Homo sapiens: one gene and its partners. The protein of the gene in region 3 interacts with the protein of the main gene of each other region in a biochemical or structural test. Each region holds a gene or a part of one and is shown on either strand. Other genes may lie near its edges.

Region 1 (4,654 bases), on a different chromosome or scaffold from region 3:
AGCCTGATAATTGAGGTCTGTAGAGTGTCGACCACTCAATTGCATTTGAGCCTTTCAGTCTATTCTGATTTTCAGAGGAGCCACTTGAGATGGAGAGTTCAGGGCGCTGCCTGGGTTCTCAGGGCCGAAGTTCTTGGATGCCGTGCACCAGCGAGCACCCTCCCGTCTCATTCTGGCTGCCCCTGCCCCAGTTGTCTGGGGAGCTCGGTTTGGAGGGGAAGCCTGACCTTTTCCCCGAAGCAGATGGTTAGTCTGTACCAGGGGTAGGGGGTTTGGGGGCCGAGGGCCATGCCTGTGCCCTTTAATCAGGTATCTTAGAAGTGAACGGTGGGCCTCAGTGTGAGAATTTCTGCCTGTTGTTTAGAGACCAGGGCACACTGGAAGCCTCTTGCTAGCCATGTGGCTCCACCCCTCTGGGCCCCTCTTCCACATGAGACTCTGTCGGAATAATAAGAATTCTTTACTTGGTCTTGATGTGGAGCCGAGACAAGTGTCTCTGCAAGTGCGGGTCCATGGATTTTCTACAGATGCTGGCTTGGTGCTGCTCCTATCCCGTCCCCACTGTGGAGGGGCTCACTTAGCTTAGAGCTGTTGGTGGTGAGGGATGGGGAAGGGGTAACCTGGGTGAGTGCCCCAGGGCTGAGCCTTGGCAGCTTCAGCTCTGCCAGGCTGGCCGGCATCTCATCAGCTCTGCGGACGCTGGGACATAGTGCAAGGCCTGAGCCTGGCCCTGGCTCTGTCCCTGCCATGGCCGATGGCCTGAGGCAGGTTTTTTTTTTTCCCCCAACAGTTTTTATTGAGATATTCTGTACAGTTCATCCATTTAGAGTGTACAGCCAGGCGCAGTGGCTCACGCCTGTAAGCCCAGCACTTTGGGAGGCCGAGGCAGGCAGATCACTTGAGGTCAGGCATTCAAGACCAGCCTGGCCAACGTGGTGAAACCCCGTCTGTACTAAAAAAATGCAAAAATTAGGCCGGGCGTGGTGATTCATGCCTGTAATCCCAGTGCTTTGGGAGGCCCAGGCAGGCGGATCACAAGGTCAGTAGTTCGAGACCAGCCTGGCCAATATGGTGAAACCCCGTCTTTACTAAAAAAACACACACAAAAATTAGCTGGGTGTGGTGGCGCACTCCTGTAATCCCAGGTACTCAGGCTGAGGTGGGAGAATTGCTTAAAACCGGGAGGCGGAGATTGCAGTGAGCCGAGATCGCGCCGCTGCACTCCAGCCTGGGTGACAGAGCGAAACTCTGTCTCAAAAAAAAAAAAAAAAAAAATCAGCCAAGAATGGTGGTGCGCACCTGTAGTCCCCACTACTCGGGAGGCTGAGGCAGGAGATATGCTTGAACCCAGGAGCTGGAGGTTGCGGTGAGCCGAGATCGCGCCACTGCACTCCAGGCTGGGTGACAGAGAGAGACTCTGTCTCAAGAAAAAAAATAATAAATAAAGGGTACAATTCAGTGGTTCTTAGTGTATTCACAACGTTGTGGAAACATCACCACAATTGATTTTGGAACTTTTTTTTAATCACCCTTTCCTTTCAGGAACTTCGCCCAATCCCCGCCAGCTCCTGGAAGCCTGTAAGCTCTTTTCTGTCTCTATGGATTTGCCTGTTCTGGATGCTTCACATAGTTGGAGGCCTGCAGTGTGTGGTTCCTTGGGACTGGCTTTGCTGGCATGGCATGGGCAGCCTATCAGCCTGCTTGGTCTCCCACGGAGAAAGAGGCTGTGTGTGTGTGCTTGCCACGTCTCGGTGCTTTGCTCGCCACAGCCTTAGGCCGGAAATTGGCAGAGTCATGATAAATTTGGCGGTTGCCCCTTGAGATTATTCTGGTCCCAGGTACACCCAGATCAGGAAATCCATTCCCCCTCCCGCTTCCCTCAGCACGCTGGTGAGTCACCTTTGCTGAGCCTGAGTTTTCTCATCTGTGACATGGACACTTGGTGGTCGGCCTGTCGCATTCCTTGTCAAGCGGGCTGGGAAGTAGGGGATGGTCCCTTGAGGAGGTCTAGCATCTGGGCAGAAGTGGGGAGGTGGGGAGTTACCACTGTGCACACAGAGGTTCCCGGAGCAAGGAAGGGAAACAGTTGTATTTCCTTGTGAGGTGGTGGTGCCTTCGTCACTCTTGACACAGGGGAAAATACACACCCATTGCCTGCCCAGGGCGATCTTGCACTTTCCCCCACCTCCTGATTTAGGGACCCCGTAGGAGTGGCTGGGAGGGGCCGGAGTGGGAGTGATTTCACTTCGTCTAACGCCCTGACAGGTACGGCAGCCTCCTGCCTGGGAGGAGCTGGGGCCTTGTGAAAATGAGGTTTGCTTTTCAGCTAATACTTGTGAGCGTTTATTGCCAGGGCCAGGTTCCATGCTAGGTGCTGCCCTCAGGTGCCCATGGTAACCTAGGGGGAAGGTTCTAGAGGAAGCATTGTAGGGCCACGAGTGTGTACCTCCAGTGCTTCATTGCTGTGTCACAGAGATGCTTCCAGGCGGCAGGTCAGAACGCACAGCTCAGGGAGACAGGGAGACAGTGGTGGACAAAGGCGGGGCTGGGGGCTGCTTGAGCCAGGCAGGCCAGGGAAGGCCCTTCTGTGAGGTGAATGCTTAGTAAGAGATCTGAGGATGAGAAAGTGAGTTATTAGGACAAAGTCGCTGGGGTAGACCCAAGCTTAGTGTGTTCTGAAAACAGAAGGCCAGCTTGGCCAGGGCAAGTAGGGAGTGGGAGGTCATTGAGGGTCCCAGGCGCTGACCCGATGAGAGGGCGGTTCTGATTTTCCCTTCAGCAAGCTCTGCATGGCTGTGGGGAGAGGGAACGAGCAGGGGTCGCCTGCGGTCGAGTGTGGGGGGCCTGCCGTCAAGTGGTGGTCATGCAGGCAGAAGGGGTGGGATGGTTATGTTTGGGGAGGTCAGCGGTGCCTGGGTCGGGGTGGGAGGCCTGATAAGTCCCTAGATTTCTGGTGGTGCTGGGTTGGAGGAGAACTCAGGCCTCTGGCCGAACTGTGCTGTCACAGCTGGGCTGGGAGGGTCCTGAGGACCACAGCCCTCCATCCTGAATCCAGGGATGTCTGTTGAGTAAGCACTAGCAGCTGGGGACAAGGTGGACAGGGAGTTTACCATCCAGACAGGTCCCTTCAGGGTGGGCCTGGAAATGGCAGGCTCCTCCCTGAGGTGAGAGTCGGGGTCACTGTGGCCAGGGCTAGTCCCTCAGGCAGAGCAAGTGCTGGAGCCGGCTCAGCGGGAACTCGCTCATTCATCCCTTAAGTGTCCACTACACAGGCCCTGTGCTGGGACAAGGGCTCTGCACCCTGAAAATACAACTTCTGAAAGCTGAGAGTGCCAGCTTCACTGCCCGCCAACCCCTGGATCGGGGCATAGGCATTTACTTTGGTGTGCCTCAGTTTCCTCTCCTGTAAAATAAGGCCATTCCCTGGAGGGTGGTTGTGAGAGTTGGTGGAGGTGATGGCTGTGAAGTCCTTTTCAGAGTAGTCAGCGCAGTGCAGGTGCTGGAGCGCAGTGGCTGATACCATCGACATCATTGCCTGGAATGCCCCCATCCACCCAGACCCGCAGGGCCTCCTGGATATCCATCCAGCACTGTGCCTCAGGCAGCCACGGGCTGTGCAGGAGACACCTGAAGTGGCAGCCCCAGGAGCACTGGCGAGGTGGCATGGGGCACGGCCTCCCCAGGGCACTGGGGTCACCGTGGGCATGGAGGTCAGTCAGTGAGCTGGCTGGGCAGGGGCACGAGAGCCTGGATGCAGGCTTGGTGGAGTGCACATCACCGAGCAGGTGCGGGTACTCATGTTTGTGCTTTAAAAGGATTTTTTTTTTTTTCCGAGACAGAGTGTTGCTCTGCCACCCAGGCTGGAGTGCAGTGGCGCAATCTCGACTCACTGCAACCTCCGCTCCCGGGTTCAGGCAGTTCTCCTGCCTCAGCCTCCCGAGTAGCTGGGACTATAGGCACACACCACCATGCCCGGCTAATTTTTGTATTTTTAGTAGACACGGGGTTTCATCATGTTGGCCAGACTGGTGTCAAACTCCTGACCCCGGGTGATCTGCCTGCCTGGGCCTCCCAAAGTGCTGGGATTATAGGCGTGAGCCACCACACCCAACCTTAGAAGGAATATTGGGAGTCTGGGCATGGTGGCTCATGCCTGTAATCCCAACACTTTGAGAGGCCCAGGTGGGCGGATCACCTGAGGTTAGGAGTTCAAGGCCAGCCTGGCTAACGTGGTGAAATCCCATCTCTACCAAAATAGAAAAATTAGCCGGGTGTGGTGGCAGATGCTTGTAGTACCAGCTACTAGGGAGGTTGAGGCGGAAGAATCGCCTGAACCCGGGAGGTGAAGGTTGAGGTGAACCTAGATTGTGCCACTGCATTCCAGCCTGGGCAACAGAGTGAGACTCCTCAAAAACAAAGGATTATTGGGAAAAGTGGACTGGTGAGGGGTAAGTGGTGAGTCACTGGGTGCTGTGGACTGGGACCTGGCAGGCCCCCCAGAGGAGCAGGGGTTCAAATGCCTGGAGGCTGCTGCTATCTCCCCTAGTCCTCCTGCTGCCGCCATGACTGTCGTTGGTCACGGAACTCTTCCCTCTGCTCCACCCTCAACTGTCATTGGCCAGGTGTAGGGACCCATATAGTGTTATATCAAGAT
Region 2 (3,443 bases), on a different chromosome or scaffold from region 3:
TGTGGACTCGAATGTGCTCCGTGAGTTTACACTGCTTGGCGAAGCCCTTGCCACACTTCCTGCAGGAGAACGGTCTCTCCCCACCGTGCGCGTGCTGGTGGACCTGCAGCAGGCGGCGCAGGCGGAAGCGCTTGGTGCAATGCGCACACTGGAAGGGCTTTTCTCCAGTATGCGCCCTGCAGGGGCTGGCGAGCCTGGCGCTCATAGGGGAGCGCTCGCCACACTCCGAGCAGGAGCAGGGCCCCTCTGCGCCATGCTGCAGCGCCTCCGTGTCCCCTTCCTGGTGGCTGTTCCCCTCCTGGGGCAGGCGCGAGCCTGGTTTCTGTCCCGAGTGCACACTGCTGGAGGCCCCGCGGCCTTCTCTCCAAGAGGCCGGCCCCTCCCGGCTGTGCTGGCACCGGCGAGCCTGCGTGCTGTCCACTGGGAGGGAGCGCTTGCCGCATGGGGTGCACTGGGCAGGCTTCTCCCCCTGCTGCGGGAGGCGGTGGCTGGGATGGGTCAGCTCGTGTCGGAAGCACATTTCACCGTCAGCGTTCCGGAAGGGGCCCCTCCCCGTGTGGGCCGCCAGATGGCGCAGCAGACACAGCTTCCGGCGGAAGCTCTTACCGCACACGCCACACCGGAAGTGCCTCTGTACCCGAGGGCTGCTCCACGGCATCTGCGTCTCCGCCCTCTTGTTGAATTTCTCCCAGGCCCTACGTGTCCGGTCCTTTGAGTGGCCTCTCTGGTGCATTACTAAATGGTTGTTCTCCCAACAGCTTTCCCCGCAGACAGGCCAAGGGTGCTGGGTGCTCTCCCAGGCGGGGACGTCCCACAAACCAGGAAGATCCAGATTTCTGGGACCTGGGATTCCTTCTTTTAGGGTAGATTCACTGGGGCCGCAGGCTAGTGGTGGAGGAGCCCTGGCGTCGTGTCTCTGTGGGCTCCCGAGGGTGATGCCTTGGTCAGGCCTGAAGGAAACAAAGGATCCAAAGGAACACTGGCTTTCAGGATCTAATTGGAAATGGCTTTTAGTTTTTCCTGAATTCATAGCCTGCTGGCTTCCTGCAATTGAAAACAAAAATTCAGTCGGTATTCCTGTCTGCAGCACTACTAGCGATTCTCACAGTCAAGTGACCCACAAGAGTGCCTTGTGGTGGCCTGGGAACCCAGCTTCCACTGAGCTACCCAACCATGCAGTGTGATCTGTCTCATGGCCGTGAGTTTGGTGAGTCTGCTGAAACTAAACTGAACAGACATATCTTTGGATAATATTGAAAAAAGGAAAATATAGGTCGCAAATATAGAGTGTAAGCTCTGGAATCAGTCTGCCTAGTTTTGAATCCTATCTGTCCACTGTGTAACCTTTGTCAAGCTAATCTCTTTTGACTTCAGCTCCTTCTGTAAAAACATGGAAACAAAAGTACATAAGATTACTGTGAGAATTAAATGAGCTAATGTGCATGAGGTGCTTAGCATGGTGCCTGGCATAGTGCATGTACTCTGTTTAAGTGTTGGCTGTTCTCATGACTTCAGGAAAGCCAGTGTATCGCATTCTGATGTACAGACACACCTGGAGTCCCGAGCTGGAGCCCTGACCAATACCACAGTTATACGTGATCCTTGAGCCATCCTGTCTCTAAGACCTGGCAGCAAGGCTTGGGCCTATTCCTCCCTCCCTGCCCCCATTTCTGCCAATGTTTCAAGAAGGTTTCTTGGAATAATTAATAGATGGTAGAAAGTTAAGTAATTTGTGGGGGAAAAACCTTCACTTTCGAAAGAAGCACCTAAAAACAAAAACTATTTGACAAGATTTCTTGAAATGATGCTCCTGTTTGACTTTTTCATTCTGTACTTTAAGAATCCAAAAATCTCAGACTCTCTCCTCATGACAAGAAATGAAAGAGAGGAGCTCAGGTTGAAGTATTCAAGTAGACAACAGTCTCTAGTTAGGAAGGAAGCCACGTTAGTCATGAAGATCTGGATAACCATGGGCCAGGCATGGTGGCTCACACCTATAATCCCAACACTTTGGGAGGCTGAGGTGGGAGGACTGCTTGAGGCCAGGACTGCTGGAAGCCAGGAGTTCAAGACTGCAGTGAGCTATGATCATGCTACTGTGCTCCAGCCTGGGTGACAGAGCAAGATCCTGTGTCTTAAAAACCAAACAAACTGGATAACCAGTTTCTACTGAGTTCTTACTATATAAACTGTCTCTCAATATATATACACATATATATGTATACATATATACACATATATTTATGTATACATTTATATACATATGTATATACACGTGTGTGTGTATATGTGTGCGTGTGTGTGTGTGTGTGTGTGTGTATATATATATATATATATATATATATATATATGTATATATATATAGTTTTTTTTTTGAGACTGAGACTTGCTCCATCGCCCAGGCTGGAGTGCAGTTGCATAATCTCAGCTCATTCACTGCAAGCTCTGCCTCCCAGGTTCAAGCAATTCTTCTCCCTCAGCCTCCTGAGTAGCTGGGATTACAGGCACCTGCCACCATGCCCGGCTAATTTTTTTGTATTTTTAGTAGAGTAAGGGTTTCACCATGTTGGCCAGGCTGGTCTGGAACTTCTGACCTCAAGTGATCTGCCCGCCTCGGCCACCCAAAGTGCTGGGATTACAGGCCTGAGCCACCATGCCTGGCCTAACACTATATATATTAACCAATTCAATCCTGTTAACATGGGTACTTTCATTTTATAGATCAGGCATTGAAATACCAAAAGGTTCAATAACTTGCCCAAGGTCACCAAGAAAAAGCAAGATCCAGACACAGACTCTAGAACCCACATTCCTAACCATTATGCTTTACTGCCTTTATCTAGAAGATAAGAGTCTTCAAACCTCAGCTTGCCCAAACAGGATGACAAGATCAGAGAAGAGAAACAAATCTGAACATGATGTCTCAAGGTCGGGGCCCTGATTTCTTAATACTCACCCCAAAACAGCTGTTCCTCAAAACCTGGATCAAAATGCATATCAACAGAGGAGCAAATTATGTTTCCTGATTTCTGTGATTCTCTCCATTTCCTGAAGGGCTCTCCCCCGTGTTCAATCCAGGATATTAGTTCTGGTTTTGGAAGTCCATCATCTGCACAGAGAAGTCAGACAGGGTAGTTTGGCTTCCTGAATTTAAAGCACACTAAGTTTCTAAATTTCTCAACATTCACTCCTGGGACAAAGTATGAGAACAACATGTCAAAAAAAAAAAAACAGGTTTACACAAAGATGAAAAAACCGCCTACACATCCTAACAATGCCTCCTAGTCTGTCTGGGCATGTTAGATCAGGTATGTTGTTTTAATTTTGTCATGTTCCCCACACATTTAGCAATGCTGTATTTTGTCCAAAAACAAAATGGCTAATGCTATATATATATATATATTTTTAAAATTAATTATTTATTTTTTGAGATGGGTTCTCAC
Region 3 (5,808 bases):
AGAAAAAGAAGAATGGTAGTTGGCGCCATGTCTGGAATACTTTGGTAAATGTAAGGACTCCTGAACACAAAAGCACAGAATTCTGATCCTAAGCAACAAATAAAGCAAGCTAAGCTACAGGCACAATAAGCTGAGATGGGCTAAAATGTTTGTCTTTGATGGGAAGACCCTCCACATTTCTAGAAATGATCTATTTTATTTAGGAACAATTTTACAAAAGATGAAGGGTTGGACTTTCCCCAGAAGAATCCTTTGTTCCTAGACCCAAACTCATAGGTAAAAACAAGCATTATATTACTGATAACAAAGATGATGAGAGTAATAAGTGCAAAGTCCCTCAAGTAATTCCGTCTATGACCTAAAAACCATAGATGGCTCTAGAGATTCCGTTTTAAATATACATCTAGACGAAGAACATGGTAGATGTATATGGACGGATATGAAAATAACTCATTTCTATTCATTGTTTTGCAAGATTGCTTTTTCATTAAAGATAAAAAAATTTTAAATCATATGTATTAATATATGCACTCATATGCAGAGAAAAAGACTTGAGGATATACACCAAGTTCCCTTGGGAATAGGAACAGGAAGGGAGAACTTTCATTTTTACCTTTTACATACATATCTGTATTGCTTTAATTGTATTCTTTGTTATAAAATGTTTATTTCCAAGTAAAAATTATTTAATAAAAGGGAAAAAGTATGCTGCTTCTTTTGTCCTCCTCACACTTAACCAATCTCCAATGGATCATCTCAAACAGCAAAGAGGAGTCTCTTTCACTAAACAGAACCTTCAAGTCATAATAATGTGCATCACAGCCCTCTCTTTTAAAACCTACTCTTTAATAACTTGCTTGAATACATTCATCTATAGAAGTAGTAGATGTCCAGTGAGATTGTCAGCTACATGTATGTCTGAAGGAAGAGGTCAGCAGCATTCTGCCTGGGGCAATCTTACACTACAACTTTTGAAAATTTCAAAAGATTTGATTGTATTCTCATACTTACCTTTTTTATTGGTTGTGAAATACTTGGAGTCAGTCATGACTTTGGATCTTTAATGTGCACCTATAGCAAGAGAAAAGAATTCCTTCATTCAGGTTATAGATATCCAACAAGGCATCCAATTAATTTTAAGAACATCCAATTAATTTTAGGAACACTTATATTTAAGAATTTCTAAAAATGAGTATCATCTTCCTTTATCACCACCGTTGATGGTTCAAGAAAAACTAAGAATGTAACTCCTCAAGCTAATGGGGCAAAAATCTAAAGGCCAAATGCAACTGGGTAAAAGTATGAACCTATTATGGCTTTGTGATTTTATCCACAGTAACTCCTCAAAGCTTTCAAGAGCTAAAGCTGGACCTTTTTATAAATATATCTGCAATTACTTTCCATTCAGGAAAATCTGGTAACTTCCTTGCCTCAAGCTGGAATCACTCCAAAACATATATTCTGAAGCAGTGTAAGGTCAAAAGAAAAAACAATTTTGCCGATCTATGACATGAAACTTTCAATAAAAAGAATCTCTTTCAGAAAAAAAAAATTCAAAATTAGTAGGACAATATTCTTTCACAACAAACATCTAGAGAGGCAACCATGACTTATGCATGGAATTTTTTTAATTTTTAGTTTTGTGGGTATTTAGTAGGTGCGTATAGGTACATGAGATATTTTGATAACAGGCAGACAATGCATAATAATTACATTAGTGTAAATGGGATATCCATCACCTCAAGCATTTATCCTTTCTTTGTATTATAAACAATTCAATTACATTCTTTTAGTTATTTTTAAATGTACAGTAAATTATTGTTGACCGCAGTCACCCTTTTGTGCTATCAAATACTAGATCTTATTCATTGTATCTAACTATATTTTTGGATTTAAAAAAAAATGTGGCTTTCTTACTTCCAACAATCCAGATTTAGCCCAAGAGTATTCCCAAATAATGCCAGTTTATAGTTAAAAACAAGGCAAAAGACTGAGACATCCGTTCAGACACGAGAATCAAACTGGTGTTGAAACAAAAGAACGTGGATCTCAACCTCAACCTTAACTCTTCCATCCCAATTTCCAGAAGAAGTAATCCAGATGACAAATGGCTCTACTAACAAAAACGGCACAGTCTGGTCACATTTTTACTAAATAATAAGACTACTTTTTCTGATTTGAGAAACTATAAGACTTTGTCCAATGTACCAGACTTCTTTAAATATATTAAAATTTTGGGGCCAGGCACAGTAGCTCACGCCTGTAATCCCAGCACTTTGTGAGGCTGCCGGGTGGATCACTTGAGGTCAGGAGTTCAAGACCAGCCTCGCCAACATGGTGAAATCCTGTCTCTGCTAAAAATACAAAATTTAGCTGGGCATGGTGGCACGTGCCTTTAATCCCAGCTACTTGGGAGGCTGAGGCAGGAGAATCGCTTGGACCTGGGAGGCGGAAGCTGCAGTAAGCCGAGATCACGCCACTGCACTCCAGCCTGGGCAACAGAGCAAAAGTCCATCTCAAATAAATAAATAAATAAATAGGAATTTGGGCCAGGCGCGGTGGCTCAGGCATGGTGGCATGTACCTGTAGTCTCAGCTACTTGGGAGGCTGAGGTGTGTGGATCGCTTGAGCTTAGGAGATCAAGGCTACAGGGAGCTATGATCTCACCACTGCACTCCAGCCTCAGCGACAGAGACCTTGTCTCAAGGGGAAAAAAATATATAAATATACATATATTTTTTAATAATATTCCTTCTGTACTCAAAATGAGTATCTTTTTCCTTATCACCATCACTAATAATACTTATCACCAACTTCAGGACAAGACATGCTGGCACCTGCTCATTATTATCAGGTCAATATGACATAATGTATTTGGCAAACAATAGTAAATATGGATCTAGGAGAAAAGACCTAAGCACCAAACAAATCAATGTAATTAAAGAAAAGAAAAAAGAGCCAGATAAACATAAAATAATGAAAAACTTCTGGTTCAAATCTGATCTCTAAAACGTGCTACTTGTACAGTTTAATGGAAATTAGACTCATTTGCTATCTTTCCAACCAGCTAATTACTATTTATAGTCTTGATCCTAATAGCTCTTTAGATTGTACCAGAAATTCACAGAATGATCTTGTTAAAAGAAGTGAGCTAGGACTCACAAATATCATTACAGAATATAGAAATTTCTCCTTTAATACTTGTTATAATTAAAAATTATACTGAAGCTTGCCTTATGCAATGTTTTTACAATGTGTTTCTAGCAAAAATTCAAAGAATGTTATAATCATTTAGTCCATTCATAATGTAAACTAAATGTGAAGTGGGCAAATGAAGAAAGGAATTCTTCACATAAAAGACCTGGAATAAATCTGAAGTTATTTATGAATGTATATATACAAACAGAAAAACCAGTAAACAGAAACGATTACTTGAGCCTCAAAGAAGGACTATAGCTCAAATCCATTACAATCTGTCTAGGATATTTACTATGCTATGCTATGTCCTTTAAAACTTGTTTAAGATTTTAAAACAAAACCTCCTTAGAATTTGTCACCCAATTTCTCTGAAAAGCCTCTTATACATACACATATTAAATTTTTTTTGGCCAGGCACGGTGGCTCACGCCTGTAATCCCAACACTTTGGGAGGACGAGGCGTGCGGATGGCTTGAGCTCAGGAGATCGAGACCAGTCTGGGGAACGTGGCGAAACTCCGTCTCTAATAAAAATACAAAAATTAGCCGGGCATGGTAGCACATGCCTGTAGTCCCAGCTGGGACTCACTGCAACATCTGCCTTCTGGGCTCAAGCAATCCTCCTGCCTCAGCCTCCCGAGTAGCTGGGACTACATGTTGGGATCACCGTGCCCAGCCCATTAAATTCTTTTTTTTTTTTTTTTTTTTTTGAGACAAAATCTCACTGTGGCCCAGGCTCCAGTGCAGTGGTTCAATTTGGGCTCACTCCAACCTTTGCCTCCCAGGTTCAAGTGATTCTCCTGCCTTAGCCTTCAGAGTAGCTGGGACTACAGGCACCCACTACCACGCCCAGCTAATTTTTGTATTTTAGTAGAGACAGGGTTTTTCCTTGTTAGCCAGGCTGGTCTGGAACTCCTGACATCAAGTTATCCATCCACCTCGGCCTCCCAAAGTGCTGGGATTACAGGCATGAGTAAATTCTTAACAGGCATTTTCACTACATTCTATTAAACAATAAATTAACCTAAGTCTTAAGTCATACCTTTATCAGTAGCTCACATATTTCATTATCTCCCCTAACAATTTCAATGTCAAGGAATATATTACTATCCTGTTCACTGTGAGCATTAAGTGTTCTTGTCTTAACTAGAAAATAATGCACCCACCCACAAAATTTCAGGGAAGAGAGGAGGGTCAAGTATCTTTAGAAGCCTATAAGATAGATTCTAAATTAAGAGTCCCTGCTGCTCTAAAGAGAAGGGATATCACTCTAGTAACCATATTGTAAACAATAGTAACAAAATATTCCCTAACCATATTGGCAGAGAAACATGGTGCCAAGCTGGTTCTTGCCTTAAGCCAAAAGAAACTCCAAGAAAAATGAAAATAGTGTAAATAAAAACAAATCAGAAGACATGATTGTTGCACAACACTGTCAGTGTACTAAATGCCACTGAACTGTATGCCTTAACCTGGTTAATTTTATGGTACGTGAATTTCACCTCAAAAAAAAATCACATATATATATGATTCAGTGTATCTCTCATATAATGAGTTCTCACCTCATATAATGAGAGATACACTTAATCACATGCTAGATATGGACATAGCCAGAGTCTCCAAAATACAGGATGGCAAAAACTGACGTCTTCATTAGAAGTTACAGCCGGTCGCGGTGGCTCACGCCTGTAATCCCAGCACTTTGGGAGGCGGGCGGATCACAAGGTCAGGAGATCGAGACCATCCTGGCTAACACGGTGAAACCCTGTCTCTACTAAAAATACAAAAAATTAGCCAGGCGTGTGGCGGGCGCCTGTAGTCCCAGCTACTCGGGAAGCTGAGACAGGAGAATGGTGTGAACCCAGGAGGCAGAGCTTGCAGTGAGCCGAGATCGCGCCACTGCACTCCAGCCTGGGCGAAAGAGTGAGACTCCGTCTCAAAAAAAAAAAAAAAAAAAGAAGTTACAGAAAAAGTAAACAAAATAGAGCTAAAGAAAAAAAAAATCTAATATTTGCTGAAGTGCCTCAAAAATCAAGCTGCTCCTATGGGGGGAGAAAATGTTCCTTCAGAAGAGCCAGAGAAATAAGCAAAGCCATGATGGAATTTGAACTCACACTACCTTTCTACCAGATCAAACCAGACAAGTAACGGCTGTTCTGAGGATTTACGGTATGGCCTAAGGCCACTGTTAAACAACAAAGCTGCCAGAGTCAAAGCACATAATCACTCTTACTTGCCCTCGACCAGAGTGTGATGTCACTGCATTTCGGAGAAGGCCTCCCTGCACAGGACTATATATCCAGATTTAACATAACCTAGTTTCTACCAAATATAGGTTGTCAAAGTCCCTCCTCTCCTATATCTCCCTCCAGTTCCCCAAAAGAGAAACTGAGCAGCAAAATAAGATTAATACCTTGGGTAGAATAAGGTCAGAAAAAAATTAATAGGGTCTTAATTCAAATGGCTCTCTGGGAAGCTAAATTAGTTTGTAAAGTCACTAAACCCTTCTTTTCACAAAGTGGGACTTTACAAAGCTCAGTGCTCATAGTGAAAAACTGGCCAAAGTTAACCAAATTATAAAGCAGAAATGTCATTCCAGTAATCTTTTATT
Region 4 (4,654 bases), on a different chromosome or scaffold from region 3:
AAGCACAGACTTGAGAAAACTTCAGGAGATAAAGTGGCATGACTTTGTGGTTAGTTGGGTGTGTGGGGTTAAAAAAAATAAAAGGAGGTGAAATGGATACATTGGGTCTTCCCTCAGTCACTACTGTCTCTCCCATCCAGCCCACCCTTGTCTTTCCTCCCCCTTCTCCTGCAGACCCTCTCACCTGGCAGAGATACCCACTGGGCTGGGCCATGCAGGTGGCCCCGTTCTGGCAAGGCCTGGACTCACATGGGTTCACGTGATCCTGGCACAGGCTGCCTTGGAATCCAGGGGGGCAGTGGCAGAAATAGGAGGGGCCGCTGTCGACACAGAGGCCTCCATTGTGGCAAAGGGAAGAGACGTCTATGCCTGGGGAGAGAGACAAACAGGGATATACAAAGATAAGTGGGGGGCCGGGCGCCATGGCTTACGCCTGTAATCCCAGCACTTTGGGAGGCCGAGGCAGGTGGATCACCAGGTTAGGAGTGTGAGACCAGCCTGGCAAACATGGGGAAACCCCGTCTCTACTAAAAATACAAAAAATTGGTCGGGCGTTGTGGCAGGCACCTGTAATCCCAGCTACTTGGGAGGCTGAGGCAGGAGAATCACTTGAACCTGGGCAGCGCAGGTTGTAGTGAGCCAAAATCGTGCCATTGCACTCCAGCCTGGGCTATAGGGCAAGACTCCATCTCAAACAAACAAACAAACAAACAAACAAACAGAAACGGTAAATGGGGATGTGGCCGGGCGTGGTGGCTCACACCTGTAATTCCAGCACTTTGGGAGGCTGAGACGGGTGGATCACTGAGGTTAGGAGTTCGAGACCAGTCTGGCCAACATAATGAAACCCCATCTCTACTAAAAATACAAAAAAAAAAAAATTAGCTGGGCATGGTGGCACACGAATCCCAGCTACTTGGGAAGCTGAGGCAGGAGAATCACTTGAACCTAGGAGGTGAAGGTTGCAGTGAGCCGAGATCGTGCCACTGCACTCCACCCTGGGTGACAGACTGGGACTCCATCTCAAAAATAAATAAATAAATAAATAAATAAATAAATAAATAAATAAATAAATAAGGTATGTGAGGAGGAGGAAGGGTGTATTCAGGGCCCAATCTCTGGGTGTAGAGGCCTTTACCTTGGGGACCACTAACATTCCTGGGTGGAGACTGGTCTGGGCCCAAGGAGTTAATAACTCCTGGCACTGAAGAAATTAGACCATCGAGTTTTACCTCTCTCCTCACCCTTTCTGCCAGAATATTGGAGACATACCCCTAAAGCTTATCATAATGTTAAAGCAACTGTTTTCTTGGCTTAAAGCAAGGCTTGAGCAAGAAATAATTCAAGGTATGCCTCAAGTGAGGACAAGTGGCTTAAGTCTGTCCCCTGAGTTCTGCATTCCTTTAATGTTCTCTCCCTGTGATTCCCATCAGCTATCCCTTAACTCCATCATAATCTCTTTCCCGAGCTCTTCTCATATCAAACCTTATTTTAGTGTTCTTTTACAAAGAGGGTGGCGTGACATCGAAGTGAGTGGGGTGGGGTGAAATGCGTTGAGTGTAGCTGGATTAAGTGTGGTCCACTCTGCCTGGGTTATGATGATCAGGACAGAGTTGAGTTGCTCCACGTTGAGTCATGTCCCTCATGGTTGGGTTAAACTGGAATCCTGTGGAATGGGCTGGTTGGTGTTGCTTGAATTGCGTTAAATGAGGTAACAGGAATTGTGTTAGGCTTCTCTGATTGCACAATTCAACACCTCTGCAATCAAGAACTGATTTGTCTGTGTGGTTTTGATTCTCAGATGGTTGTTTTGGCCAAAAGCTGTGTGGAAGCCCACAGGAACGGGGCAGGTGAGAACACCCATATTTTCTTCATTTGCTCTCCAGTCAGTGCCGGCGTTGGTTACCTTGGCTCAGTGCAGCCTTCTGGCAGGAGGACAGTGGAAGGTTGCAGAGAGGCCCGGTCCATCCCTGGAGGCACAAGCAGTGGAAGGAGGGCCCAGTCTGGAGGCAGTGGGAATTGCGTGGGCAGGGCTTCTGGGCACATAAGTCCATCAGAGTCTGAGGGGTGGGAGGGAGCGTGAGGCAGGACATAGCATCAGATTCTCAGCCCAGAGATGGTCCTCTGCCCACTCCAGCTCCTCGAAATCCCTTACTTCAAAAACCTTCTCCTGAATGGCCTGGGACCAGGTGACCCTCCCTGGTTTCCCTCCCAGCCACTTCCCTCCTCAGCACGCCTGACTTCAATGGCCCTCACCTGGCAGCTGCCTCCGGTGTAGCCAGTGGGGCAGAGGCAGCGGGGACCCTGAGGGCTGTCCTGGCAGGTTGCCCTATTCCTACAGGGGCTGAACAAGACAGAGACAGGGCATGATAGGAAGAAGTTCGGGCAACAAGGGGAAGGTAGTGTGTGATATTGTCGGGAGGCAACCACAGGGAGGTGGCAAGCCAGGAGGGAAGGCGGAACGAGGTGTGGGGTGGGAGGCAGCCTGGAACCCAGGGGGAGATGAGAGGAGGGGTGGGAAGGCTGAGGGGTTTTCTCCCTTCTAGGGGTCTTTGGGCCCTGCTCACCTGTCTGCACAGCTGGGGCGGAGCTTTCCCTCACAGCGCGGGCCCTGGAAGCCCATGGCACAGAGGCAGGAGAAGGTGCCAGGCCTGTTCACACAGGTACCCCCATTGAAGCACGGGGCTGGAGAGAGGAGGCTGTGAGGGTTTGGGTTCCTTGCCTGTAACCTGGCCTGTGACCTCAGTCACACTGTACATAGGACATACACCCCCCACCCCCATCAAAACGACAGCTCACTGCCATCCAATTAATTTTTATTTATATGATATTTTATTGTTTTTAGATAGGGTCTTGCTCTGTTACCCAGGCAGTGGTGCCATCAGAGCTCACTGCAGTCTTAACCTTCTGGGCTCAAGTCATCCTCCCACCTTAGCCTCCCAAGTATTTGAGACTACAGGCCTTAGCCACTGTGTGCCCAGCTAATTTAGAGATGGAGTTTCATTATGTTTCCCAGGCTGGTCTGTTCAATTAAATTTTAAAAAATATGACACAAGCATACCCTCCTTAGTTCTTCCATTCTCCTGTGGACCCCAGCCCCATGACACAGTGGGCACTCACCAGACACACAGTAGTCAGTGCTGGTTTGGCACTGGGGCCCTGTGTGGCTTGGAGGGCAGGTGCAGTAGTAGCCTCCAGGGCTAGGGTTGCAGGAGCCGCCATTGAGACATGGCCCTGAGTGACAAGCTGTCATCTCCTCACTACAGGTGGGTCCTGAAGGAAACAGGTGGGGGCTGAGAAAGGGTGTCCTCCTTCCCTCCCTCCGCTCTCCTTCTCTTTCCTCTTCCTTCCCTTCCTCATCCCCAACCCTATTATTCTTTCCCATCAACCTCCGTTCTCACCACCTCCCACACATCACCCGTGTCCCCTGCAGTCCAGTTCTCCTTAGTGGTGACTGAGACTCAGGGCCCGTGGTCGCCTGCCTTACCCTTGACATAGGGGGTGACCAGCACAGGGTGTATATGGTTTAGGGAGGGTCTCACCTGTGTAGCCTGTAGGGCAGGTGCAGTTGTAGCCAGAGGGCTGGGGGTAGCAGGTCCCCCCATGGGCACAGGGTGCAGAGATGCAGCCCCCTAGCTCTGCCTCACACTCTGGCCCCGTCCAACCCACGTCACACACACATGAGGATCTGGTTGTAAAGAGAAAGGGGAGGGTTTTTCTCTTCTCCTACTGCTTATGTTCCCCTCCCTGCTGCCTGGACCCCTATGACTTCCTCTTCTTTTGGCCCTGAGATTCTGGCCTCTTTCTTCAGTGACTTTGCTCTCAGCACCGCCCCCATCCTCCCCAACACCTGCTCATTTTCTCCAACTAGATATATGCATCTATATATCTAGTTGGAGATATATATATATATATATACACACATATATATTCTTTCTGTAACTTACTTATTTTCTGTCTTTCTTTAGAATGAAAGCTCTACGAGAGCAGTTGCTTTATCTCTTTTGCTTTGTGTTTCCCCCAGGGCCTGGAACAGTAGCCACACAAAGTAGGTGCTCAGCAGATTTTTTTTTTTTTTGAGACGGAGTCTTGCTCTGTCACCCAGGCTGGAGTGCAGTGGCATGATCTTGGCTGACTGCAACCTCCGCCTCTTGGGTTCAAGTGATCCTTCCGCTTCAGCCTCCCAAGTAGCTGGGATTACAGGTGCGCCACCATGCCCAGCTAATTTTTGCATTTTTAGTAGCTACAGGGTTTCACCATGTTGGCCAGGCTGATGTTGAACTGCTGATCTCAGGTGATCCGCCCACCTCGGCCTCCCAAAGTGCTGGGATTACCGGCATGAGACCGTAATCAGCACTGCGCCTGGCCTCAGCAGATATTTTTCTAATGAATGATTAATTCGCCCTGGGATTTAGTGCTCTTCTTTCTGCTCTGACCCCCTGGTCCTCTGTTTCCACCAGTTTTTGTGGACTCTCTTCTCCTTGGATAACACTTACCAGTTGAGCCCTCCCACTGCCTTGCCCTAAGAACTTTGCCATCTCCTTCCTTTTCCCCATTGGTCATTTCTCACAGACCTACATCTCACTGGCTGTCTTCTCCTGTCCTAGCGAAGGGAGCCCAAAGGAGGGGGCAGATGGGGAGGGTCTGGAAGATG

The links. The genes of interacting proteins can lie anywhere in the genome.
Region 1: the proteins of AP2B1 (region 3) and PPP6R1 interact in a surface display test, tested with the Homo sapiens proteins (one large-scale study listed by IntAct).
Region 2: the proteins of AP2B1 (region 3) and ZNF786 interact in a surface display test, tested with the Homo sapiens proteins (one large-scale study listed by IntAct).
Region 4: the proteins of AP2B1 (region 3) and NOTCH4 interact in a surface display test, tested with the Homo sapiens proteins (one large-scale study listed by IntAct).

The regions. Positions count from the first base shown.
Region 1 is NC_000019.10:55,249,018-55,253,671, reverse strand, and holds part of PPP6R1 (serine/threonine-protein phosphatase 6 regulatory subunit 1), read left to right. Parts: intron 1-80; exon of another isoform or gene 81-243; coding exon of another isoform or gene 244-246; intron 247-1,542; coding exon of another isoform or gene 1,543-1,578; intron 1,579-4,654. UniProt on the Homo sapiens protein: Regulatory subunit of protein phosphatase 6 (PP6). May function as a scaffolding PP6 subunit. Involved in the PP6-mediated dephosphorylation of NFKBIE opposing its degradation in response to TNF-alpha.
Region 2 is NC_000007.14:149,071,430-149,074,872, forward strand, and holds part of ZNF786 (zinc finger protein 786), read right to left. Parts: intron 3,110-3,443; coding exon 2,957-3,109; intron 1,045-2,956; coding exon 1-1,044. UniProt on the Homo sapiens protein: May be involved in transcriptional regulation.
Region 3 is NC_000017.11:35,589,271-35,595,078, reverse strand, and holds part of AP2B1 (AP-2 complex subunit beta), read right to left. Parts: intron 1,072-5,808; 5' UTR 1,049-1,071; coding exon 1,012-1,048; intron 1-1,011. UniProt on the Homo sapiens protein: Component of the adaptor protein complex 2 (AP-2). Adaptor protein complexes function in protein transport via transport vesicles in different membrane traffic pathways.
Region 4 is NC_000006.12:32,210,568-32,215,221, forward strand, and holds part of NOTCH4 (neurogenic locus notch homolog protein 4 preproprotein), read right to left. Parts: intron 3,689-4,654; coding exon 3,543-3,688; intron 3,274-3,542; coding exon 3,121-3,273; intron 2,686-3,120; coding exon 2,568-2,685; intron 2,345-2,567; coding exon 2,257-2,344; intron 2,061-2,256; coding exon 1,907-2,060; intron 370-1,906; coding exon 185-369; intron 1-184. UniProt on the Homo sapiens protein: Functions as a receptor for membrane-bound ligands Jagged1, Jagged2 and Delta1 to regulate cell-fate determination.